Regions from separate parts of the Homo sapiens genome. Here region 2 is linked to region 1. Evidence: fine-mapped expression QTL. A gene starts in region 1. The other region holds a variant in brackets. All regions are shown on one strand. Distances are between the middles of the regions.

Region 1 (2,925 bases):
CTCTCAGGTATTTATGTTACTCTACTTTTATTAACATTATGCACCATTTATCTTATTCTCAGATTAAAATAAATTCCCTAAGGTCAGGTATGTAATTTTACTCATCTTACTTTTTTAAGTAAATTGAATGGCCTGATTGGGCATTTGTCTAAGTAGAGATACACAAATTTAAAGCATTTTACATTGTAGAAAATATTTACATGTCTATATGTTGTATACTCTATTGCATGCTACTGGTAATCTGCTACATGCTCTTCAAAGTTTCCATAGAATTTGACATTAACACTTTCTTAAACTCCTTTCTATTCGTAGCTTCTGAGACATTGTCCTATTCTAACTTTCCTGCTGCCCTATAACTACTCTCTGCATTCTGCTAGTTTTATTACTTATTAGCTGACAACCTTGGGCAAGTTACTTAATGTCTCTGAGCCTCAGGTTTTTCCATGATAAAATGGAAATAAAAGGAGGTTAATACTTCCTGTTTATGTCTGTTGTCATAATCAAATATAAAGATAGTGGATGCTTTCCAAATGTTAATTCCCTTTATGGGCTCCTTATCCCCCTTACCACTTCATGAATGTTCCTAAGGTCCTACCTTGGATCTTTAATCTCAGCACTCTCCCTTGGCAATCTCATCTAGTCTCTTAATTTCATCAATTACTTCTTGCAGGTGACTTTCAACATGTCAAAATAGAATGTTTAATTCCCCCCCCCCCGCCAATCAATTTTCTTCATCTAGGATATTTCCCAACTCCTTCAGATGAAATTTACTCACCTAACTCATCCTTCAAGATCCAGTTGCCATGTCATTTGCTTTATAAACACAGCATTCCCCTTACCTACAGCAAGAACTGATTCTCCTTAGTCTGAACTCACAGCATCTGTTTATAGCTCTCATATGGACCTTATCTTATCTGTCTTGTATGATAAATGATACTACCAGTACTCCTTGAGTACAGGGTCTGGTGTTTGTCTCCTCTCTCCTTCCAGTACGTAATACATTCCCTTGCATACTGCAAACATTAAATTACTACATTAAGTAATTTTAAAATTTATAGTGCATATTAGTATGATTTCTGAAAGCTCTAGATCAGCCAATTTCTATACATAAAATCATGTAACAATGGTAACTATAATAGAAGGCTATAAAACATAAATGAGTTTTAAGGCAGTCCCCGCAAAATGCAAATAGAGAAACCAAACAATTACATTAGAACGTGTGGCAGTGATTTTTCAATTTAGAAAAGCCTAAATATTGAATATTCTTCTTATTGCAAATCCCAAAGAATACCAAGTCCCTGAATCCTGCCTTAAATATTGCATAAAATATACAAATGTGAAGGCTGTTTCCCTGACCATGAGGAAACAATCCTAACTCAGCCTTCTTTAACTTCCAGGACTCTGCGGAATTGCTATCTCATCTGAGCCACACAGGACACAAAGCTTCAGAAGCTCCCAGCAACCTTCAGGAAAGAGGCACAGAATTCTAAGCGCAGACTGGCAAGAAGAGGAGGATGAGGAAGAGAAAGGGGCAAACCCTCTACCTGGGAGCCGGTGCACCATCACAGGAAGGAAATCCACTGCAGTGGCAGAATGACTCCTGATAAAATGGAGAAAGACTCGAAAAAACATTTTTGTATTGAGCAGATCCAGTGATTTCCAAATCCTCTCACACTGGCAGTTTTGAGTACTACTAAACAGTGAACACGCACAGAACTGCCTGGACTGTCCCTCCCTCACTGACAGGTCAAAGAGAGGACGCAGCTTAAGGGGCGGGGCTTATTTCCATGACAACCGTCCAAACACCCTAGCTATAATACGCAGCTGTTTGAAATATTAAAATTAGACCACCAATAGTGGTCTCCCCCGCCCTAAACTTTTCTTTTTCAAACCTGTTCTCACACTACAGTTAAGTCCGTTTATCCTGATGCACAGCATCAATTTTTTTATGCCACTCCTCTTCTGGAAGATTCCGACACAGAATAAAGTCCGAATTTAGACTGCCACTAGAGGACGCTACAATCTGGCAACAATTTACCTTTCATCCTTTTTCTCTGCCTTTAAATCACTTCATCCTTCCTTTTCTTTTCTATTCATTAATTTTACAGAACATTTTCTGACAATCTAGCATGAGTGAAAGTATGCCCTTAAAATGTATATGACTTTATTAACATTTTTAGCACCAATGTAGCAAATACTGTGCTACAAAGTAAGAATACCAAGAAACAAGATTGTCCCTGCTCTCCAGTTTAGACCATACACTATTCCCCTTCATGAATTATCATCCCAGCAAAGTGACTAACATACCATGATACGTTTGTTCTTCTGTGCCACTGAAGAAACTTTTCCCCTGCCTGAAATATCCCCTTTCCTTTTCAAAAATCCAATTTAAAATCTACCTCTCTGACTCCCTTACCAAAAGGTCTTCTAGTAACTCCCACAGCACTGCCACAGAGTTGCTTTTAACATTAACATATCATGTTTTCCTAGCAAAATTGTATTTCAAGAAAGAAGTGGTTAAAATTGTCAGAAGGGAGTGTCTTAATACATATAGCAGAGTACGAAGATAGTTCGGTATATATTTTGATTAGTAATCAATGAAAAATAACTTATAAATTTGTGATATTTTATTGAAATAGTAAAGAGTAACATTAGAAGTGTAAATTAAAGGGCAATAGTATTCCTGCAATAGCATTTCTCCAGTTGTGAGATAATAATAATTATTATTATTTTCTGAGACAGAGTCTCACTCTGTCACCCAGGCTGGAGTAGAGTGGCACAATCTCGGTTCACTGCAACCTCTGTGTCCCGGGTTCAAGTGATTCTCCTATCTCAGCCTCCTGAGTAGCTGGGACTACAGGTGTACGCCACCATACCCAGCTACTTTTTTTAATTTTTATTAGAGACAGGGTTTTGCCACGTTGG
Region 2 (2,925 bases), 77 kb after region 1:
TCTGTTGGTCAGGATGGTCTCGAACTCCCAACCTCAGATGATCCACCCGCCTCGGCCTCCCAGAGTGCTGGGATTACAGGTGTGAGCAAATATCATTTTTTCTAATTCACCCTTTCTCTGAGGGCAAAACTCTTTATGGTTCTTGGTTTAGGGGAATCTTCATTCTAACTCCCTGGTTTGAGCCCTAAGCTTTTCTCCTGGCCTATGTGCCACCTTCTTAAAACTAGAATCCGGCCAGACATGGTGGCGCAAGCATATAATGCAAGCACTTTGGGAGGCAAAGGCAGGTGGATTACTTGAGCTCAGGAGTTTGAGACCAGCCTGGGCAACACAGTGAGACCTCATCTCTACTAAAAATCAAAAAAATTAGCTAGGCATGGTGGCACAAGTCTGTAATCCCAGCTACTTTCAGAAGGCTGAGGTGGGAGGATCACTTGAGCACAGGAGATCAAGGCTGCAGTGAGTTTGATCACGCCACTGCACTCCAACCTGGACAACAGAGCGTGATTCTGACTCAAAAAAATATAATAATGGCTAGGCGTGGTGGCTCATGCCTGTAATCCTAGCACTTTGGGAGGCCGAGGCAGGCGGATCATGAGGTCAGGAGATCAAGACCATCCTGGCTGACACGGTGAAACCCCGTCTCTACTAAAAATATGAAAACAAAATTAGCCGGGCATGGTGGCAGGCGCCTGTAGTCCCAGCTACTCCAGAGGCTGAGGTGGGAGAATGGTGTGAACCTGGCAGGCGGAGCTTGCAGTGAGCCAAGATCGCACCACTGCACTCCAGCCTGGGTGACAGAGCGAGACTCTGTCTCAAAAATATATATATAATAATAATAATAAGAAGAAGAAGACTAGAACTCTGGGCCACCTGGGCTTAGTAGATACTCTTAGGGGCAACTGATACCCTAAGCACTTGCTTACCTCCCTAGCTGCAGACTTACTTTGGTCTGGCTCCAGAAGATTTCTTTTTGCAAACTAAATAATATGTTTTGGCCGGGTGCAGTGGTCTGTAATCCCAGCACTTTGGGAGGCCGAGGTGGGTGGATCACCTGAGGTCAGGAGTTTTGAGACCAGCCTGGCCAACATAGCTGAAACCCCATCTCTACTAAAAATACAAAAATTAGCCAGGTGTGGTTGTGGGCACCTGTAATCCCAGCTACTCAGGAGGTTGAGGCAGGAGAACCGCTTGAACCCAGGAAGCGGAGGTTGCAGTGAGCCGAGATCATGCCATTGCACTCCAGCCTGGGCAACAAGAGTGAAACTCCGTCCCAAATAAATAAATGAAATATTTTTAAAGGTGTTCTTGTTTAACATTCTAACAGGCTTCATATCAAAGTAAATACTTTCTAAAATTGAGTCTGCCATATTGCCAAAAAATAGAAGTCTACAAATTCTATCTCTTCCTAGCCGTCTCACAAATCCAAAACTTCAGTAGTTACTGATTCCAGTACCATATCTAATTTTCCTTCA[A/T]CATTTTTCTTTAATGACACTACCTCCCATCCACCTATTTACAACAAAAAATTGAGCAAAGCTCCTTCCTCCCTCAAGCGTTCACATCTTAGTATAACTCTCATTGATTCTAAGTTCTAAATATTTCTTAAATTTGTTCTCTCCTTCATTCTAGCTACAATTGCCTTCACAATTCATTATTTCTTTTCTGGGTCACTAAAATAATCTGTTTCCATGCTTACCTCCCACAAATCCATTCTTTACATAGCTGTCAGCAAAACCTATTTAAAATAAAAATTGGATCATGCCGTTTGCATAATTAAGTCTTCAGTAACTCCATATTGCTGTCAAGATAAAGTCGCAGGCCAGGCACAGTGGCTCACGCCTGAAATCCCAGCCCTTTGGGAGGCGGAGGTGGGTGAATCACTTGAGGCCAGGAGTTTGAGACCAGCCTGGGCAACAGAGCAAGACCCCATCTCTACAAAAAATACAAAAATTAGCCAGGGATGGTGGCATGTGCCTGTAGTCCCAGCTACTCAAGAGGCTGAGGTGGGAGGATGTCTTGAGTATGGGAGGCAGAGGTTGCAGTGAGCCAAGATCGCGCCACTACATTCCAGCCTGGGCCACAGAGTCAGACTCTGTCTCAAAAAAAAAAAAAAAAAGATAAAGTTTCAATTACTTATCGTGGCATATAAGGTCCTCTACAATCAGTCCCTCCCTGTGCTGGGTCATACCAAACTACATATCATCTTTTGCTTGATCTGCCATCCTCCAGTCAACCCTACACCTCATCCCAGCTTCCCCAGCCACTGTCAGCTCCTTATCTTTCAAAACCCAGGTTACAAATCTTCTCTTCCAGGAAACTTGCAGGCAAATCCTTACTGCACCCTTTGTTACATCACAGCGCATGACGTGCTTCACCATCACTGCACTTACTACACCGTATTGCAGTCATTCTTCTGTTGCCCCAATTAGACTATGAATTCCCTTCAAAGGCAGGTAAAATTTTATCGTTATCCACAGTACCTGGCACAGTGCTGATTACATGAGGTACTTAGTATCTATCAAATGAATGAATTAATGTTTTTGACTTCTACAATACCTTTTGAGATTGACTCCTACTTCCACTGCTACTCTCAAAGTTCAGGCCCTTTATTCTGTCTCTATCCCCTCACATGTCCTTCTACCTCTAGCTTATTAACCCACCTAATGGTACCCAAATTATTTCTAAAGCACAGTTCTGATCATGTCCTGCTTACCGTCAGAAACTACTATTGCTGTTAGCCCTTGGATTTTTTTTTTTTTTAAAGAGACAAGATTTCACTCTGTCACCTAAGCTGGAGTGCGGTGGTATGATCATAGCTCATTGTAACCTCAAACTCCTGGGCTCAAACAATTCTCCCACCTCGGCCTCCCAAGTAGCTAGAACTACAGGCACATGCCACTGCCAGTGATGCCCGGCTAATCTTTT

The links. PIP is the estimated chance that this variant, and not a neighbour inherited with it, causes the effect.
Region 2: its variant is the best candidate, but not a certain one, in a credible set for the expression of BCO2 in whole blood (TOPMed, PIP 0.86).

What each region holds. Positions count from the first base shown.
Region 1 is chr11:112,174,309-112,177,233 of GRCh38, reverse strand. BCO2 (beta-carotene oxygenase 2) reads right to left here and starts at 1,722. Exons shown (of 12, transcript NM_031938.7): 1 at 1,545-1,722. The coding sequence starts at 1,632.
Region 2 is chr11:112,097,317-112,100,241 of GRCh38, reverse strand. No RefSeq gene overlaps it. Among named protein-coding and RNA genes, the nearest start is that of SDHD, 12 kb to the right of the region's middle. RefSeq lists a silencer at 263-471. The variant A/T (reference allele first, on the strand shown) is at 1,476.